Regions from separate parts of the Homo sapiens genome. Here region 2 is linked to region 1. A link means that fine-mapping ties the variant in region 1 to the expression of a gene that starts in the linked region. Tissue or cell type: whole blood. Region 1 holds a variant in brackets; the other region holds the start of a gene. All regions are shown on one strand. Distances are from middle to middle.

Region 1 (10,739 bases):
TCCTTTACATAATTGGGACCCACTGGTAGGTGTGTCTGTGAGTCCCCAGCCCTCTCGCTGCCCCACCTCCTAGCTTCTATTCCTCACAAGCCAGCTCTTGGGTTCCCTCACCTCTTGGTCACACTCATGGAAGAGTTCCAGGTTGTCTGTGTCCTCCATAAGGCAGTTCCCTAGGTGTGTCTGATTGGGGCTGATTTGGGAAGGACTGTTCTCCTTTTCTTTGGATGCTGTCCAGGGATTTGTGTTCCCTTTTTTAAGTAGCACTATCCACGTCCTTACATAACGAGCACAAAGGTGAAGGTATTTCCAGCCATGGACAAAAGAAATAAGATGGCAGCAAACAGTTGCCTTGTTAGTGAACTTAAAAGAGACCTTTCTTTTAGGTCATCTTTGCTTTGAACCAGACCCTCCTGCAGCAGGAAAGCCTGCGAGCAGGCAGTCTTCAGATCCCCTACACGACGGAGGATCTCATCAAACACTATAACTGCGGGGACCTCAGCTCCGTCATCCTCAGCCATGACAGCTCCCAGGTGAGCACCCTTTCCCCCTGCCAAGCTCAGCACACATTTAATTATAGGAATAAAAACATTACCTGGCAACATGTACATCCTGTGTACAAAGGATTGAGGTCATGAGGGCTCTAGAAATAAAGTGGGCAGATTTAGATGTCATTGAATGAGGCACTACAGCGAATGAAAGCTTTACAAACCTTGTAAGAACAGAGAGGGGCATTGATGAGGGTTAATTCCAGTATTCCAGCCAAAGGATGAAGCTTCAAAGGATTTAACAGTAGGCCACATGAACCAGCCTTGAGGAAGGGAAGGGTTCTGAGTCTGATGGCCTCCTGGCTGACTTAGGTCATACTTTTGCAAAATGATGGGGCAGAACTTTGACTGCAGCTTCAGTGGCCTCTAGGAACATGTGAACATGATATAGCTGTGTATTCACAGAATGCTTACAGGCTTAGGGCATCAGAGCTGGGAAGGCTGCTAGCATTTGCAGACGTGGATCATTGCATCCTGTGGTATTGCAGGATGAGTGTGGCTGAGCTGGTGGATTGAGTGTTTGCCCAGCTCAGGCCTTACCTGTGGGCCATTGAGTGGAAGGAAGTAGCTGCTCAGCCTCAGAAGATCATGGTCTCCTTCCAGGAGGGAAGTGGTACGGATCTTTGTTATGCTTTTATCAACAGGCTTCCCATGGGACAAGCCATGGTGCCTTCGCCTCCTCTCTAGGACTACATGCAAATAGCAAACACCAGCTAAACTTCTGAGGTAGGGGAGTGTGTTGTTTCCCCCACCCAGGACTGGTGTCCACATGCATGAAGACACTGGAGAGGGGAGACAGGAGCTAGTGGGTGTGGGTGATGCTGTACAGGTCTATGTTAAATCTGGGGACCCAACCATAAGGAGACATGTGTGAACATGAGAGCTGAAGGAGGAATAGCAGCAATGGGGAGAAGGACAGTACAGGCTGAGTGCAGCATCAGCCCAGAAAGGTGACATTTCATTAATGACAGAAGCCTCAAAAGATGTAAGGAGCATCCCCAAAAATCTAGAGGAAAAAAAAGTCAAATTGAGACAAAGTGAAGCAGGAGGAAAGGGAGAACAAGAAACACATTAAAGAAGGAAAAATAGAGTTGGTGGTGGTGATAAATCTTACCTGCACTCTTGCTGAGGGTAGGGAAGGGGGGAGAAAAGTCAAGATCAATTGGGAAATTGACATTTGAAGCAGCAGAAAAAAGTTAATGTGGGCGGAGGATTTGGTCATTACGTGGGCAAATGGTGAGGCTGATGGAGCAGATAATACAGATGTCTTATGCATTTTTCTCCTGTGGCTTTCCCATATCTGTTCTGCCCACAGGGCCCCTACAGGAGGTCAGGGAATGTGCTGTCACTGTGAGTGAGGGCCAGGCTGGCCAGCAGGGAGTGGTGCAGGCTTTGGGTGATGTTTGGAATTTAGAAGGTGGAGCAGGATGTCAGAGGGAGGTCACCCTGTGTATCTGACGCTGCCTCTGTAGAGAGGCTGGTAGAGAGGGGGGCTCTGCTGAAGAGAAGAGATTTTGGGAAATGGGCAGGGGATCTTACATAAATGACATGATTAAAAAAAAAGATGACAGAGTAGAAGATGAAGGCTGTCGATTTGAAAATGAAAGAATATCATTTCGAGGCCGTCGCAAAAGGAGATCTGTTATCCATAAGATGGAAGTTAATGCTGTCACAGAGTCTGAGGACTTTGGAAAGCTTTTTGAGAGGCTACTGGAAGCAGCAGCAGCAGGCAGGGTAGATACTGACCAAGATAATGGGTAACATTGTTAAGTCCCTGGGTGGAGGAGAGAGCATGCACCCAGGGGGAGGAGTGGGAGGCTGAGGTTTGGGAAGCCAGACAGCTGAGGGGGTGGGGAGAAAACACAGAGTGCCAGCCTTACCTGTAGCTCCTGGGCTGCAAGAACCACGCTGATTGTCACAATTTTGATGCACTTTCATCCTGTTATTAGCCAAAATACTGAAACTGGCTAACATGTATACCAGAATCAGTGAAATATTTGCCAGGAGGGCAAAGAACATTGGGGAAAGCAAGAGAGAGAAATAGGAAGTGGAGAAATAATGAAAATGTAAAGTAGAGGATTTATAAAACATTTAAGTGTTTATACAAATTTCATGTTTTCGGTAATAGAATCTAAAATATGTAACTATATAAGACTATTTTTATAAGAAAAGCATGTATGAATCACACAAGTTAAAACTATGGATGTACTGTGCAAAGACAGTGTCCTTTTTTTTTTTTTATAAACACACGGCATCAGACAGAGCCATTTAACTAAAACAGAAGTGCAGTTGTAAATAGTGTAAGAGTTCATTCAATGCACTTCACTTAATATTTTTTTCACTTTGGTTACAGGGAATGTGATAGAGTGGGAAACATAGCAGACAGGAAACTCCAAGAATGGTGTCACTCTTCTCTTGACAACGTCTTGACCATCTAGGTTGGGGGATTTGATGCTCCAATGAAGTAACTTTGTTAATAACTCTGTTGCCCCTTATTTTTTTTTCTCTTTATTTTGGTGGAGGTTCCCAATTTTATTAATGCCACGCTACCACCTCAGGAGCGCATCACTGCTCAGGAGATTGACAGCTACTTACGCCGGGAGCTGATCTACAAGCGGAATGAGAGAATAGGGAAGCGGGTGAAGGCCCTTTTGGAGGAGTTCCCTGACAAAGGCTTCTTCTTTGCCTTTGGAGCTGGTGAGTAGTGGGTCACCTCTGATTAGCCTCTGAAATCTGAGGCTTCTCCCAAGAAGGGAATGTTGAGGTGAGCCCCTGCTTAGGGCCTGTGTTAGTCATGAAGCGAGATGAAGGGAGTGACACCTTCCTTGACTTATTTCAGTTGCAGAGTGGCTCCAGCTGGGGATGGAGCATCCAGCATGGTTGAAATGTTGCTGGATGAGCTGGTGCATGTGACATCACCCATAGCTCTCTCCACACATAAGCCAGCTGGGAAAACATTTTTGTCCTCTGAATTTCATACTTAATCCCAACTTCTTTCTGGTACTTTTCACTTTGTAAACTTTCACTACAAATATGTTTGTCTTTACTCTTCTACCTGACAATGAGCCTCCCAAGTCCAAGGCCTGGGGCTGATACATCAGCTGTTATTGACTGTTAGCAGCACACATGGAGACAGAATAGGACAATTATTTTCTTTTGTGGGCTTCTTGAAATAAATTCTCTCCCCCGGAGTGACTCTGACACAGAATTCTTTGCAGCCTCAGGAAATGAGGATAGAAATGCCAGAGGCTGGACAGTATGCAGAAAGATCATTTGCTGGGCTGGGCTTTGTTTCATATTTTTCTGCTAACTTCATAAACTTAAACAAGTCATGTC[A/G]CTCAGTTTCTTTACCAGTAAGATAGGGGGTTGGAGAGAAGCAATTCTGAAATGGTGGAGTGAGGGCCTCCAAAAACCTGTTCTTCCATAGCAGCAATAAGAACACTGGAAAAAATGGTCAAAATCAACTTTTCCACAGCTCTGGAAATTAATTAAAGGCTTGCAACAATCCTAGAAGTGTTTATTTAAGAAAACTGGATGAATTTTGATAGAAGCAGTGGGCTTTGTGGCATTTTAACTTGTTCTGTTTTTATCTCCCTTTTCCCAGCTTCACAGTAGCCTTGAAAATCAGGAGCCTTGAACTACAGTAGCTGTGAAAACTGTTTGCCTAATGGTTACTGGAGGGGACAGAATGGGTTCAAAGTTCCTCCAAAGCTCCATCCTTAAAGAATCATCACTATTTGACATGTCCAATAGTTCCCTGAAATTTCCATTCCCAAGCTTGTCTTCATTTGACCTGACTCAGAGCTTGCTCTGTGTGAATAGCCCTATTCTTAGGGTGTGTGTTGAAAACAATCAGTAGCAGCTGTTTAACATCATAGTTGCTGGAAATAGCAATATTAATTGAAGCTTACAAGGGGCTGCCCAAAAAACTTAAAAGCAAAATCCCATAGGGGGTATAGAAAAGCTCTAAAATATTCCTAGAGAGTCACATGCATGAGAAGAGCTGTGCACATGCCCAGGAAAGACCTGAGAAGGTCCTAATCTCTCACCTCTGGCTGATCTTGAGGCTCTGTGTAAGCAGAGTGTGAAAGCTAAGGCAAAGTCATAAATTGCCTGTTGAAGCATCAAATACATGCCCCCAAACTCACACAGCCCCTCTGCAAAGGTTGGGAAACTTGCAAGGAATTTAAGGAAATCTCTGTTCAGTCATTAGCCAGCCACTAAACTAACTGAGCAGATCCTTCAGTGATCACACACAACAAAGAATACAGACTTTACAGACTTAGTCCTAGAAAATCACTACACAAACAGCAACAACAATGCACCTGGGACTAAGGGAGAGGAGATGAGTTCCAGAGTTGGTATATTATTTAAATGTCTAGTTTTCAATAAAAACAATTATAAGACACAGAGCAAAACTAGAAAGTATGGCCCATACCCAGGGAAAAACAAGCAACCAATAGAAGCTGTCCTTGAGGAAGTTAATATCTTGGACTTACTAGAAAATGACTTTAACACTAGTTATTATAAATATGTTCAAAAAACTAAAAGAGGCCAGGTGCGGAGGCTCACGCCTATAATCCCAGCACTTTGGGAGGCTGAAGCAGGTGGGTCACCTGAGGTCAGGAGTTTGAGACCAGCCTGACCAATATGGCAAAACCCTATCTCTACTAATAATACAAAAATTAGCCAGGCGTTGTGGCGCACACCTGTAATCCCAGCTACTTGGGAGGCTGAAGCAGGAGAACTGCTTGAAACTGGGAGGAAGAGGTTGCAGTAAGCTGAGATCACACCACTGTACTCCAGCCTGGGCCACAAGAGTGAAACTCCATCTCCAAAAAAAAAAAAAAAAAAAAAAACCCTAAAATTAACCATATCTAAAGAATTAAAGGAAAGTTTGAGAACAATATCTCACCAATACAGAATATCAATAAAAATATAAAAATTATTTTAAAAGAACCAAATAGGAATTCTGGAATTTAAAGTGTAGGAACTGAAATGAAAAATTCACTACGGGGGCTGAACAGTAGATTTGAACTGGCAGAAGAAGAATCAACATACATGAAGATAGGTTGATTGAGATGATTCAGTATGAGAAAGAGAAAGGAAAAGGAATGAAGAAAAATGAATAGATCTTCAGATACCTGTGAGACACCCTCAAGTGTGCCAATGTATACCTAACGGGAGTCCCAGAAGACAGGAGAGAAAAAAAGAAAGAAATAAAAAGAATATTTGAATTTAAAATTGCTTGAAAATGTCTCAAATTTGATGAAAAATATTACTCTGCACATTCAACCCATGAACTATAAGTTGTATAAAATCAAAAAGTTTCACACCAAGGCGTGTCATAGCCAAACTGTCAAAAGCCAAAGACACAGAATCTTGAAAGCAGTGAGAGCAAAGCAGACAAGGGATCCCCAATAGGATTAACAGCAGATTTCTCATCAGAAGCCATGCAAGCCAGAAGGCTATGGGAGACATACTCAAAATGCTGAAATAAAAGACTGTCAACAAACATTTCCACATCCAGCAAAAATCAAAAACGAAGGAGAAATCTGTTGCATGTGAGCTGAATAGAATTTGTATTCTGCTGTTGTTGGATGAAGTATTCTTTAAATGTCAATTAGATCAATTTGATTGATGATGCTCTTCAGTTCAACTATATTCCCTATCTGATAATTCCAGAATCTCTATCATGTCTGAGTCTGGGTCTGATGCTTTCATTGTTTCTTCAGATTGTGATTTTTCTTGCCTCCCAGTGTGACTTGTAATTTTTAATTGAAAGCTGGATATGATGTATTTGGCAATGGGAAGTGAGGGAAATATGTTTTTAGTGTGAGGGTTTATGTTAATCTTTCTCAGAGTTGGGCTGTTTAATGTTTTGCTGTGGTCTGAATGTTCCTTAAAACTTGTGTGTTGAAACTTAATTATTATTGTCATGGTATTAAGAGGTGGGGCCTTTGGGAAGTGATTAAGACATGAAGGCTCCACATTCATGAGTGGATTCATGCTTTTTAAAAGGACTGGAGGAAAGTAGTGTAGGCTATTTTTTTGCCCTTGTGCCTTCCACCATGTGAAGATATAGCATTAGCCCCTCCTGCCATGTAAAGACTCAGGAAGAAGGCCCTCAGCTGGACATGGTGGTGCATGCCTGTAATCCCAGCACCTTGGGAGGCCATGGCAGGAGGATCACTTGAGCTCAGGAGTTTGAGACCAGCCTGGTCAACACAGTGAGACCTCATCTCTACAAAAATTAAATAAAAATTTAGCTAGGCATAGTGATGTGTGCCTGTAGTCCCAGCTACTTGGGAAGCTGAGGTGGGAGGATCACTTGAGCCCTGGAGGTCGAGGCTGAAGTGAGCTGTGAACATGCCACTGCACTCCAGCCTGTGTGACAGAGTAAGACTCTCTGTATTAAAAAAAAAAAAGGCTCTCACTGGGCACTGAATGCCTATGCCTAGATTTTGGACTTCCCAGCCTCTAGAACTGTGAGAAATAAATTTCTATTGCTTATAAATGACCCAGTCTGTGGTATTTTGTAACAGCAACACAGACTAAGGCATGTTTGCTGTAACTCTAGGTCCCAGAGGCTTCAGTTTCCTCTAGTGACCTCTAGTTTTTCCTCTAGTATTTTTTGTCTTGTGCTTTCTTAAGAACCTTCTTAAATAGAGTCTGAGTCTTGCTGCACTTTCACATATAATCCACTGTTATTTTACTGGAGTCCTATTGTTGTGGTGCTAAAGTGAAGATACCATTTCATACTCACTAGGCTATAATAAAAAAGATGGAGAGTAAAAAGTTTTGGTGAAGACATGGAGAAATTGGCACCCTCATACATTGCTACTGGGAATTTAAAATGGTGTAGCCATTTTGGAAAACTGTTTAGCAGTTTTTAAAAATTAAACATGGGGCTACCATTTGATTCAGCATTTCAACTTCCAGATATATGCCTAGGAGAATTGAAAACATATGTCCACACGAAAATTTGTACACAGATGTTCATGGCAGCATTATTTATAATAGCCAAAAAGTGGAACCAATCCAACTATCCATCAACTGACATGGATAAATAAAAGGTGATATATACACACAAATGGAATACTATTTGGCCATAAAAAGGAAAGAGGTACTGATATATGGTACTACATGGATGAACTTTGAAAACATTATGCTAAGTGAAAACAGCCAGTCACAAAATCATATGATTATATTTATATGAAATGTCCAGAACAGGCAAATCTATAGAGACAGAAAGTATTCATAGATTAGTGGTTGCCAGGGGCTGGGGTCAAAACGATGAAAATGTTTTAAAATTAGATAGTGGTCATGATTGCATGATTTTCTGAATATACAGAAAAAATCACCGACTGGCATACGTTAAAAGGATGAATTTTATGTTATGTGAATTATATTCAAATATTAATAAAACTGTTATAGAAATATAAGGGGTTTGGCTCCCACATTATGCTCATTGAAAAGTTCTGCCACAAACAAACTGCAGTTTGTGCCCTCAGCAATGCCCGTGAGTATGTGGTAGTTTTCTTCTTCTGTAAGTCCTGTGTTTCATGTCTGGATTGGGCACCGTGTGCACATTTGTACTGTCTCAACAAATGGCTTCTTGGAACAAAGCTGTTAGCCTGGGCCTCACTCTTGAGGCACCGTAACAGTGGTGCAGACCCCAGATGAGAAAGTTAGGAAACAGAGCCAGTGGTGGTGTCCCAATGCACCACCCCGGGTCTGTGTGGATGGAAGGTGCCCAGGTGCTGGAGTGTGGGCTTCTGCTTTCCACCCCTGCCAGACTTAGGTGAGCTCCCAAAAACTTCCCGTATGTCCCGTGGCAGGGGTAATGGGGCGCTGGGGAGAGGGGAAAGGTCGACTGGGTTCTGGGCTGGTGGGAGGCTGGGGCACAGCTTGGTCTGAGCAGTTCGGTGGGTGGGCCCTCGTGGTGGGGGTTCTGCCAGGCAGGTGGAACAGGCAACACCAACACCTGAGCTTGCCCAGTACTCAGGGCTTGATTTGTCATACTGATGCAGGGCTAGATTGGGGCTGACAGCCCCTGGGCACTCCTGATGCCCGAAGTGCCCAGGGGCTGTGAGCCCCCATCTAGCACTGGCTCCTTCTAAGGCAAAGTTATATTCCTGTAGCTGCTTTCTCTCTGTGCCTTCTGAAGGCTAAGTTGAACAGAGGAAACTACAGAAATTGCTCCGAAACACATTACCGTGTGCTTTTAAAACTTAAAAGCTGTGTGGTTAGCAAACTTTTAATTGCAAAATGAGGATAACTGAAAATGGAAAGTACTGGAGTTTTAAAATCAAGCAGCGACTTTTGTCATGGGGATCTGGATATAAAATGCGAAGATTAGAAATGGAAATCACCTTTGCAGTAGAAGAAAAATTGAAGTCAGAAGTGCTAAGTGGAAACTATAATCACTTGTTCTAAATTGCCAGTTCCTTATTTGCAAATGAATAACCTAGGATCAGTGGTGAAAGACATGACTTTTTTTCTTATTTAGGTGTCGATCTTAAATCAGCTCATGCTGATTTTTGGCTCCTGTTTGCCAGGGTTACTTCTCCAGTGGCCTCCTCTCCTACCCCACATTTCTAGGTTACAGCTATCGCCCCTGCACTGGCAGCTGTCTAGGCTGGTCTAGGCTGTGGGGAGGAGAGGGGAGGATGGGAGGGAATGGTTTTGCCAAACTTCCCTTTCTGAGCCCCTGCTGACCCATGAACACCCCCTTTGATGCATGAGGGTGAAAATGAAAGCAGGAACCATGGGCCTTCTGCTTCCTTCTCGGGGCCTATTTGCTGTACTGCCGCAGGCTCCCAGGGTTCCCTGGTTGTGACTCCTGAGACTACAGTGGGTTTGTCCTATGCAGAAACCTCCAAGAATGACAGATCTTAGATTAGGTTGCCTTTACTTTTTCTAGAAAGTGGTGATTGGGAAGTAGCCATTCCTTCCGTCCCACCAGCCTCCCTGTTTTTTCAGAGAGCACAATTGCATTCCATCCTGTAGTTGGGAATTCCCCCCCCTCCTTTTTTTTTTAATTGAGACAGAGTCTTGCTCTGTCACCCAGGCTGGAATGCAGTGGCATGATCTCGGCTCACTGCAACCTCTGCCTCCCGGGTTCAAGTGATTCTCCTGCCTCAGCCTCTCAAGTAGCTGGGATTACAGGTGCCTGCCACCATGCCCGGCTAATTTTTGTATTTTTAGTAGAGATGGGGTTTAACCATGTTGGCCAGGTGGGTCTTGAACTCCTGACTTCAGGTGATCCACCCGCCTCGGCCTCCCAAAGTGCTGGGATTACAGGTGTGAGCCACTGTGCTCAGCTTGAATTCTTGTATTTTCTCCAGACCAGTGTCCTCACCTTTCAGGATCCTGCTCACATATCACCTCTTCTGGGAGGTCTTACCAGGTTGCAGTTTGATGTCCAGGCTATCCCCTTAGCTTTGTGACTTCAGGTAACTTGCTGCATTGTTCTGATCTTCAGTGTCATTGTCTCTGAAATGCTACTGATGCTGCCCTGCCTGCCTTGCAGGACTGTTGGCAGGCCTGATTCCAGAAGCTCTCTAGAACTGTACTGTGCTGGACAGATAGGCAGGGGGCTTGGCAGGGTAATTTCTTGGTTCTAGGGTGTGTGTTTGGGGAGTATGTTTGGTGGTCCTGAGAGCTGCAGCATTTCAGGTTGTTTTTCTCACTGCAGGTCATTTCATGGGCAACAACACAGTGCTGGATGTTTTGCGGCGTGAAGGCTATGAGGTAGAACACGCCCCTGCTGGACGACCCATCCACAAGTAACCGTCCTGTGCTTCTATCTTGGCTGGGGAGCTGAGACCCTCATGGGGCTGCCTGGGCACCAGGGTGGGCTGCTATCTTGAGGAGCTCCAGAGAACCCCTGCCTCGTCATTTCCCCCACACTTGACCTTACATGGACATTTGGCACCAGCTCAGCTGGCTCTGTGTGGCTGGGGCTGTGTCAGACGTGGTTGGCAGGATGGACACTTTGGGCTGCAGGGGCCACACTGGCGTTTTCCTCAGTGGTGTTTGGCAAGCGGGGGAAGGTGAAGGGAAGGTTGCCCAGGGGTTGAGGGGTAGGGGAAAGGAGGAGTAATTAGGCTTAATGCCCAGTGTCCTTTGCCCTAGGTGTTTTGGAAGTTTTCGGGAGGCAAAATCGGGCCATGACAGTGGTAAACAGGC
Region 2 (10,739 bases), 43 kb before region 1:
AGCTGATCTCGAACTCCTGGGCTCAAGCCATCTTTCTGCCTTGGCCTCCCAGAGTGCTATGATTACAGGTATGAGCCACCATACTTGGCACAAATTTCCTCTTTTTATAAGGACACCAGTCAGATTGGATTAGGGCCCATCCTTACAGCCTAATTTTAACTTAATCATCGATTTAAAGACTTTATCTTCAAATACAGTCACATTCTGAAGCACTAGGGGTTAGGGGATTAATGTATGAATTTTGGGGGATCTTAATTTATCCCCAAATAGAATCTTAACGTATCTCATCTATGAGGTGGGAGAAATGAATGGAGGTGAAAACTGGCCTTGGTAAAGGAGCAGCCATCACTCCTTAGTCAGAAGAGGCGGATGACTGGACACCCTTTCTTGTGACTTGGCCAATGTTCATGTTTTGTCTGTGTTGAGATGTGATTATGGAGGGGTTTTGCTTTCATCTTCATTCATCACAGAGTGGCCTTGTCTGATGTTGATGCTCTGTGAAGTTGTTTATGTTCAACAGGAGAACACCATGGCTTAGCTGTGAGTGCCAGGCCAGCTTGTAGCAACACCAAGGCCTGACTGATAAAACCAGACCAGTTCCCAGCTGTCCAGGGATGTTTTCTCTTTTTCACAATCTGGTACAAGCAGTGTGCTGCAAAGCAAATGCAGCTTTGGCATACTTGCCACTCTTTCCTACTTAGAAATTCTTGTGCCAACACTGGGTGGGCGAGGGAGTGTGGCAACATTCAGCCCCTTTCCAAGAATGCACGGAGCCTGCACACCTGGCAGTGGAGGGAGTAGGTGTTTCCACACCTCCATCAACTTAGGTCTTCAACTGCTCACCTTGAGGACGGACACAGCCTGCTGGCCGAGCACCATGCTGGAACTCCTGGGAATGTGCTTAGCATCCCACTTCCCCTGGTGTATTAGTTATCTATTGCTGCTGCAACAAATTACCACAAACCTGGTGGCTTAAAACAGCACACATTTATTTTCCCAGTTGCTTTGGATCAGGAGTGTAGACAGAGCTTAATTGAGTCCTCTGCTTAGGGTCTCACAAGGCTACAGTCAGGGTGTTGTTGGCTAGGACTGGATTTTCATTGGAGGCTCAACTGGAGAGGGATCTGCTCCTGAGCTCTCTTAGGTTGTTGGCAGAATTCATGTCTTCATGAATTCTGTAGGTCTCATGGCAACTTGCTTAGCAATGGAGAGAGAGATTTTCACTGCTTCTGAACCTTCCCCTAGTCCTTTCTCTTTCCCCTTTCATGTATGGTTGATATTCTTGGCAACTCTCCCATATTAGTCCATTTTGTGCTGCTATAGAAGAATAGCACAGACTGGGTCATTTATAAGTAACAGAATGCATTTCCTTACAGTTCTGGAGGCTGGGAAAGATAGCAATGGAGAGAGAGACTTTAGCAAGACTAGCAGTACATGTTTATGTAGTCATGTACAAGTAATCACAGCACTGCCCATGACCTTTGCCGTATTTCATTGTTAGAAGCAAGTCTCAGGTTCTGGTTACAATAAAGGACAGGGTATGAAACATAAGTGTGAATATCAGGAGGCAGAATCAAGGGGAACTGCCACCACACCTCTGATGTCCCGATCACCTCTGGAAATCTGTGGATGACTGCAGGTCAGCCAAGCCAGGTAGAAAAAGGCAGGGTGAAGGCACAGAGTGTTGCTGAAGCCATAGCAAATCCTCTGCATACTCTGAAAACTTTATTTTTGAGGGTAAATCTGATTTTGGGGAAAGAGCAAAAAGGTATCAGCAGTATAATTTTCTCAGGTACTGCTATGAAGGGGACAAGCCTCACAGGTTTGTGTAAATTCAGAAAGTCATTACTAGGGGCACAAAAGAAGCACTTAAGAGTAGATGGACCTAAGCGGATGCTATACTTTGAAGGTGTCCTCCAAAAGCATATGTTGGAAACTTAATCCCTAATGCAACAGTGTTGGGAGCTGGGACATCATGGGAGGGCTTTACCCTCATGACCTCATGAATGGCTTGAGGATGACTTTAGCTCTCAATCTCGATTTTTCTCTCTTTCTCACTCTCTTGTGCTCTCACCTTCCACAGTGGGATGATGCAGTAAGGAGGCCCTTGCCAGATGCTAGGCACCTTGATCTCAGATTTTCCAGCCTCCAGAACTGTAAGGAAATACATTTCTGTTCTTTATAAATGACCCAGTCTGTGGTATTCTTCTATAGCAGCACAAAATGGACTAATATGGGAGGGTTGCCAAGGATATCAACCATACATGAAAGGGGAAAGAGAAAGGACCAGGGAAGGTTCAGAAGCAATTCAGGGCTCTGGCAATGGGCAGCCAGAGGTATGATCCAGTAACAAAGCTGAAGTTAAGGAGCTAAACTTGATACAGAAACTCGGCAGATAAGCAGAGAGGAGGACATGGGTACATTTAACATCTCCTTCCTAACCAGGAAGGGAAAGGCAGAAAGGCCTGCAACCCAGATGTCTGTATAAGGCAAGTGAGGACCAGGCCATGTCAGCCTGTCACCAGGTCTGGGTCAGCACTGTGGGATGATAGTGAACTTAGGAATGTCTGTGGAAACATGTAAGTAGAGTAGATGTGATTCTATAGAATATTCGGACACTGAGTGTCTTACAGAATAAATCCTACTTGATGATGGGTCTGGCTAAGAGAAAAAACAAAACGAAACAAAGCAACAACAGCAACAAAAAAAACACTTCATTTAAAAACTGTCAGAATCAAACAAAATTATCTAGGTACTTTGGATATGGATATGATATTTCATACTCAGTATCTGACCATATGCTGAGCCATAAAACAAGTCCCAATAAATTCAAAATAATCAAAATCATACAGAGTATGTTTTCTGTTTACAACAGAATTGGATTATAAATCTGTTGATATTGCAAAAACCACAATTACTTTTGCACCAACCTAATATTTAGGACAATTCCATAGTTTGGAAATCAATCAACCTACTTCTAAATAATCCACGGGCAAAGAAGAAAATCACCAGGGAAAGTAGATAATGAAAGATAATGAAATACAGTTTTTCAAAATTTGGGTGATGTAGCTAAAGCAGTGCTTATAGGGAAATTTATAACTTTAAATGCTTATATTACAAAAGCAAGAAGACTTAAAGTCAATGACTTAAGGTACCACCTTAAGAATCCAGAAAAAAAGCAAAGTAAACCCAAAAGTAAACAAACAGAAGGAAATAACAAAGATAAGAGCAGAAACCAACGAAATAAAAGAGAGACAAACAACAGGAGAAAATAAACAAATTCAGCCATGTTTTGTGTGGCCAGAGAGAAGCCCAGCTCAGAGAGAAGCTGGGCGGGCTTCTCTGTGGCCACACGGATTGATTCATTTGGAGTGGGAGAGATAACATGAAATAATAGGTAATTACATCCTTTTGAGTTTTTTGTTTTGTTTTGTTTTGTTTTATTTTAAATAAGAGACAGGGTCTCACTTTGTGGCCCAGGCTGGAGTGCAGTGGTTCGATCTTAGCTCAGGGCAACTTACGTTCTTGATGCTTTTTGCTTTTCCCCCTCACAACCGAAAGAGAAAGTTTTTGCCAGCAGGTGGCAGCGCTGGTGCCTGAAAACGCCAAAAAGCATCGTCCTGGGTTGGCCCGGAGACTAACGATTGCCGCCGGGCTGACACGGGGCAGTCATCTGAAGACAGGAGACAGTCAATTCCAGAAAGCAAATCCCCACTCAAACTTAGAAAAAAGCGATTTTACAAAAACATCTGAACTCTAAATGTTGGTGGAGTTAAATCTCGAAAGACTTGGCTCTTCAAAGCCAGGGGTTCTTTACGGGAAAGTTGGAAATGGGCTTCAGAAAACCTCTCCCCGCATTGTATGCAAATCTGCCCCCCCCCTTTTCTTTTTCCCTGGGAGATCGTCCAGTTATCAGATTCTCAAAATGGACAGCGACTTAAAGCAATTAAAGACCACTGCGACAAATGCTCCTGCGAACACCACTCCGAAGTTAATGGCGCAGACGTCTGGACTTTAAAAGGTGGTGGTAAAGTGCGCTCAGGCATGGGTAGGAGGTGCGGCAGGCGGGGCACAGCTACTTGCTTTCATAATTTTTTTTTCTTCCTGATGGACCAATGCTGTGAAAAATCCTCAGTGGGGTTTTGGAGCCGAAAGGGAGCGACTGCAGTTTGCAGGCTTGCTATGTGTGCCAATCAAGGTGTTTCTCATAAATTTCCTCTTTTAATCCTTGCGGCAATCCTCTGAGTTCGGTGTTAACATCCTTAATATTATTCCTAAAAATCCATTAAGAGGGCTCTTAATGGAGTGCCAGCTTTTGTGGTCCTGGATTTTCAGTGGATGCACACACTGACCATTCCCCTCTCTCTTTTACATTCAAAACTTCCGTGAGATTTCCTTTGTTTAAATGAACTTTCCTTTATAGATAGCCTTTCATTTGTTTATTTTGTCTGCCTCTTTCAATCAAGAGGCACCCTCCCCTCACAATCGGCAGCATAAGCACAGACGTAAACGCAGGAACCAATGCGATTTTAGGTTGAATTTAGGACAGCGCTGGAACTTCACTTTACCCCTCTTGCGGTCACACGAGGTGGGCGGCGGCCCCGGCAGGGTTTGGGCGGGAGAAACGCGGTTCGGGACTCCGCTGCCGCCTAGGCGCGGGGCTGACCTGCGGGGGTGGGGTGGGGGGAGGGAGGTCGAGGCCCGGCCCCACGTGGCCGCTGCTGCCGGGCTCACCCCAGCCCCGCCCGGAGGCGCCCCGCGGCCCCGGCTAGCCAGGGCGGGCGGCCACCTCTGCCCTACTCCTTCCCTCCGCGTTCCGGGCCTCGGAGCCGCCTTGAGGAGGATGAGTCCCTGGAGCTGGTTCCTGCTGCAGACCCTCTGCCTCCTGCCCACGGGCGCAGCTTCGCGGCGCGGGGCGCCCGGCACCGCCAACTGCGAGCTCAAGCCCCAAGTAAGGCGCGCGTCGGGTGCTGGAGAGCCGGCCTCTCTGCACCTCCTTGGGATGGTTTCCCTCCGAACCCCGCGAAGCAGCGCTTTCGGACCCCGAGCCGACTTCCGCGGCTGGGCTTTCACCTAGCACCGCGGCGCTCCTTGCTCGCTCTCCTCTCCGTGCCCTCGGGTTCCCCTTTCCCGCGGGGGCGCAGCCCGCAGGCTCCAAGCGACTCAGTGCCCTGGCCTTTGCCCTCCGCCAGCCCAAGGGCGTCCGAGAGAGCCTCTGGGGTCTCGCCAGCCATTTTCGCGAGCTTTCGGGGGACGGATCCGCCAGGGAGTACCGGACCAGGAACTTGGGCACATTTATTTGAAGTTTCTTCTTCCCTCTCTTCCTTAAGAGTTTAATTTCACCTGCTCTTATCAAAATATTAACAGCGCCCTGAAGCTGCTTGGCTTAACCTTCATATGTTCAGTGCCTGAGTTAGAAGGGACTTTAGGGAGTTGAAGCCATTTCCCTTGTTTTTACCGATCTGGGAAACTGACACTCAGCGGGGGACCTGTGTGCTCCAGGTCACAGAGTGCGTTCGCGGAGTGACCACTGTCCGAGCCTTGCGTGTCCAGCCGGGCGCTTTAGATGTTCGCATCAACGTTTTGTGGGTGAGGGAAACCCAGGCAAGGGAGGCTCAGTGACCTGCCCGAGTCAACACAGCTCTATAGCGGACAGGTCTTGCGTCTCCGAGGCTGGACCTCTTTCGAGATGAATATTTCCTTCTCTGATCAGTTTTCCTACACTCAGAATTTTCTGTGGTTCTCGAGTCCCTCTCTTCTGAGTGCGGCATAGGTTGAATTTCGCGCATTTGTTCCGGTGGGTTTGATATCTGTGCGTCCCTGGCTCTGGAGAGGGCCATGCCAGGCTTATCCTTCTGGTGCGCCCGCGACGCGGGGGTGGGGGGGGTTGGGGGTGGGTTGAGGGAGTGGGGGCTGGAATTTAGAGGCCCACCTTTGATGACACCTGCGCAGCTCCCCGGTCTGCCTCCACCCCTGGCCATTCGCAATTTTATTCCTCATCCCAACTGCAGCAAAGCAGAGGACGGCCAAATAGAGCCGATCCTGGAGCTCCGGGCTGGGAAGACGCACGGTGTTCGCCTCTGTAAGGCGTCGCGGGGCTGCGGACGGCCCTCTACCAAGGCAGGAGGCGCGGCAGCTGGAGAGGGGAGTCTGCACCAGGCATGGTTTCAAACTCTGTTGCGGTGTGGCCGCTTCATGCTTGTTAGACAAGGCAGGAGTCCATCTCCTCACAAGAAAGCACATTGCCTTTCACTTCTGCAAAACCTATTACCGACTGGTAATTATGACGAGTGAGTCTGGATAAGATCTCTCTCCTTTAGAATCTGTCTTTATGAGTCCTTTATTCCATCGTCCTACCTTTTGGTCTCAGGACTCCTTTACGTTACAAAAAATTATCAAAGAAGCCCGGCATGGTAGCTCACTCCTGTAATCCCAGCACTTTGGGAGGCCAAGGCGGTGGATCACTTGAGCCCAGGAGTTGCAGACCAGCCTGGCCAACATGGCGAGACCCTTGTCTCTACAAAAAAATAAAAAAAATTACCAGCGTGGGGACATGTGCCTGCAGTCCCAGCTACTCCAGAGACTGAGGTGGAAGGAAACCTTGAGCCTGGGAGTGGAGGCCAGTGAGGTGTGATTGTGCCACTGCACTCCAGCTTGGGTGAAAGAGCGAGACCCTATATCCAAAAAAAAAAAAAAAAAAGTATTGAAAACCTCAAAGACTTTTACTTTATGTGAATTAATGGAGATAGTAGTAAAACACAACATAGCACACATTCCATTAGCCATCAGAGCAGTGACCTCATCACACACATGTAGCCTCCAGAAAATTCTACAGTACCTTGTGAGAAAATGAGGGTGAAAGGAAAATATCTTAGTTTTATAAAAACAGTTTTGACCTTATAGACTCCCTGAAAGGCTCTTGGGGACACCCACAGGTCCCTGGACCATACTTTGAGAATTGCTGTTCTATTCTGTGGGCAAACTCTGTCTTACCCCCTGCGGAATTGGGAAGGCCAATCAGCGGCACACATGCTGTATGTCTGACCCACATGCTGTAAGGGCATTGTGGTTGGGTTCCTCAGTGGGTTGGGGTCTTGAGATTCTAGAGTGGAAGTCCTGGGATCCAGCCTCCAATCCAGTGCAGCAGCCCCTATAGGATTCTGCAGGACTGTAGCCTTGAGAGCTGGTTTGGTTTTCATGGTTGGTTAATCATTAGAGAGGTCTTCTGAGCCCAAATTGGCCCCTAGACACTGCAGGGTTTACCCTGAGCACCACGCAGGTTGAGTCTCTTTCTTGTCAAACAGAACTCTTAGTGTTCTTTCCTATTCCTGCCTGCTGCCTTTTTTTTTTTTTTGAGACAGAGTCTTGCTCTATCTGTCACCCAGGCTAGAGTGCAGTGATGCTACATTGGCTCACTGCAACCTCTGCCTCCAGGGTTCAAGTGATTCTCCTGCCTCAGCCTCCTGAGCAGCTGGGATTACAGGCGCCCACCACCAAGCCCGGCTAATTTTTGTATTTTTAGTAGAGATGGGGTTCCACTATCTTGAGCAGGCTGGTCTCGAACTCCTGACCTCATGATCCACCCGCCTCAGCCTCCCAAAGTGCTGGGATTATAGGCGTGAGCCACCGTGTCCAGCCTGATGCCTTTTATACTTGCTCTTTCTTCCCCCTGGGAAATTCTCCCCTCATTTATCCACAGGCTTGCTCCCTTACCTCCATCTGGCTTTGGCTCAAGCGTCTCTCAATGAGTTTCTTCCTGATTACTCTCGTAAAGGTGACATCAACTGCTGCCACCACTACCATCTGCCTTCCCTGCTTTATTTTTATTTATAGCACTTAATCACCATCTGATAAAAATTTTTGTTTATTGCTGCCCCTTCCCCTATGTCATCTTCATAAGGGTAGGGATTTTTGTCTGTTTTGTTTGCTTCTGCATCCCCAGTATCCAGAAGAGTGCCTTGCCATAGCAGATGCTCAAAAAATATTTGTTGAATGAAAAGGATAATGTAAAGCCAGCTTCATTGTGGCTGGTCTGCTGAAGAGTAATCTTGGAAAAGTGCAGTTATTGCAGGTCCAGGGATGCTAGGATGGGAGGAGCTGAGGGTGTGCTGGGTGTTACGGAGTTAGCTTGCAATATGCAGTTGTCATTGTGCCTTGTTCTTTTTCACTGGATGGACTACACAGGTGTCTGTTAAAATCTCAGTTTGATTCAGAAGCTTGTAGCTTCTGTGTCTCAGTCACCCATGGCCATGTTTTCTCTCTCTCTTTTTTCTTTTTTGAGACACAGTCCTGCTCTGTCACCCAGGATGGAGGGCAGTGTCGTGATCATAGCTCATTGTAACCTTCAACTCCAGGCCTCAAATGGTCCTCCTGCCTCAGCTTCCCAAAGTCTTGGGATTACAGGCATGAGCCACCATGCCCGGTTGTCTTTTCCTTCTGGGAACAGTTGCAACAAGTTAGAAGGGACATGTTAATCGTGGTTCAGTTTTTTTTTCTTTTAAACCACCCTAATGTTAAAATCTATGGCTTCTTCTAATTGCCATATATTTTAACAGTGAAATGGGGTAGTGAAGGATTTTTTTTTTTTGTAGAGATAAATAGCCCTACCCTGAGGATATCAGTATGAGAGAGGCAGAGGCAGTTGCACCAGTACAGTAAGTGCAAGGGTCCGGGGGCTCGCCAGTGGGCAAAGTAAGGTAAAGAAGAGTCCTGAAGACTCTTCTTTCAGCCTGTGCCCTGCTGAAGACATGTCTGGTAGGGCAGGATCAGTGTTCCACAGGAATGGTTATTGGTGCACACAGTGGGAATCCGGGTGCCCTTTGGTCAGAACAGATCTGTAGGTATTGAAGAAATTGTACAAGATAAGATTCATTTCTTTAAAAAACTCTTTTTGAGCTCCTATGTAGTAGTATATGGCAAGTATTTCAGTATTTGGGGATATGAAGGTGAATAAGATACAGCCCTTGGCATAAAAAAGCAGAAAAGCCCCTGAGCTGTGTTAACTTGAAAAGAGAAAATGGGAAAGGTGGCACCTGAGGATGTAACAAGGTCAGTGTGGTTTATCTGGGCAATCATCTGGGATCGGGAAGATGAGCTGGACAGAGCCTTTCTAGATTTGGAATCAGGTGGTGCTCCTCAGCAACAATACAACTAGCAGGGTATTAACTGAAAAAAGATATGACTCTGAATCAGAGGTAAAGTCTATTGCATGTTAAGGCTGCATAAATATGGCGTTTAAAAGCTTGGACTCAGGAGTCAGCCTACCTGTCCACCACTTAGCATGGGGCATATTTTTGCTCCCACCACACCACTAAAACTGTTCTTGTCTGAGTCCCTAGTGACTTCAGTGTTGCTCAATCCAGAGGTCAGTTCTCAAATTCTTGATTTATTTGGCCTACCATCCACATTTAACCCGCTTGCTTACTTTCTGCTCCTTGAAGTACTTTCTTCAATCGGCCTCCTACTCTTCTGATTTTCCCAGCAACCTTGCTGGCCACTTCTCATTCTCCCTTGCTAGCTGCTCTTCTTTCCCCAGACTTCTTAGGGTGAGAGGGCCCTGAGTCTATTCCTAGAACTTTTCTCCTGTGGACATCCTGTTGGAGACCTTGTCTAGTCCCATGGCTTTAAAGAACATCTACATGGTGATGATGCCCTCATCTTCATCTCTGACCCAGGCCTCTCCCAAGCTCCAGACTTACATATTCACCTACCACCTGGACCTTGGCACAAGTTGTATGCTTGACATGTCAATTGGACAGATCCAAAACCAAATTTCTGACCTTCCCCTCTAATCCTGTTTCACCCCCGTCCTTCTCCATATCTGTTAATGATAACCTCATCCTTTCATCAGGAAGTCCTGTTTTCTTTCCTTTTTTTTTTTTTTTAATTTTGAGATAGGGTCTCACTCTGTTGCCCAGGCAGGAGTGCAGTGGTGCAATCATAGCTCACTGCAGCCTCATCCTCCCAGGCTCAAACCATCTTCCTACCTCAACCTCCTAAGTAGCTGGGACTGGAGGTGCCTGCCACCATGCCTGGCTAATTTTTAAATATTTTGTAGAGACAGGGTCTTGCTATGTTGTCCAGGCTGATCTCAAACTTTTGGGCTCAAGCTTCCCAAAGTGTTGGGATTACAGGCATGAGGCACCGTGCTGGCCAGCAAATCCTGTTTTCTAGACTACATCTGGAATTTGATCACTTCCCATCAATCCTGTCACTCCCACTCAGATTATTTTGGTAATGTCCTAACTGACCTACTTGTGTCTGCCCTCATCCCTCTATTCATCCCAGCCTCCAGGGCGAGCCTTTGAACACACTGTCAGCTGATGTCACTCCTCTCTCAAAAACCTGGGCTAGCTCCCATCTGAATCAGTTGAAAGCCTGAGCCCTTCCTGGGGCCTTTCCAGAGGCCCACCGACCCTGCATGGCTTGACCTCACTCACCTCTCTGACCTCTGCCTCCTGCTTTTCTGTTCAGCTATCCCTCTCTGTCGTGCTGGCCTCCTTGCTGGTCTTCCAGTACATGGAGGCCCTCCCTGCCTCAGGGCCTTTGCATGCTGTTTCTGCCTCCTGGAGGGAATGCTCTTCTCTTAGATATCCCCATAGTGGGCCCCTCGTCTCCTTCACGGCAAGGCTTAGATGTCTTTATAGACATTCAGTGACTTTTCTGGTCCCCCTACTTAAAGTCACCCCTGCAACCCTGTGCCACAGTACTCACTGTCCCTTTTCTGGCTTACATGTTCT

Evidence for each region. PIP is the estimated chance that this variant, and not a neighbour inherited with it, causes the effect.
Region 2: it holds the start of TRABD2A, and the variant in region 1 is fine-mapped to the expression of TRABD2A in whole blood (TOPMed, PIP 0.98).

The regions. Positions count from the first base shown.
Region 1 is chr2:84,831,652-84,842,390 of GRCh38, reverse strand. It overlaps TRABD2A (TraB domain containing 2A), which reads left to right. Exons shown (of 7, transcript NM_001277053.2): 3 at 384-530; 4 at 3,068-3,242; 5 at 10,246-10,336. Among named protein-coding and RNA genes, the nearest start is that of TRABD2A, 44 kb to the left of the region's middle. The variant A/G (reference allele first, on the strand shown) is at 3,882.
Region 2 is chr2:84,875,144-84,885,882 of GRCh38, reverse strand. It overlaps TRABD2A (TraB domain containing 2A), which reads left to right and starts at 4,799. Exons shown (of 7, transcript NM_001277053.2): 1 at 4,799-4,951. The coding sequence starts at 4,844. RefSeq lists a silencer at 4,695-4,824 and enhancers at 4,554-5,054, 5,055-5,557.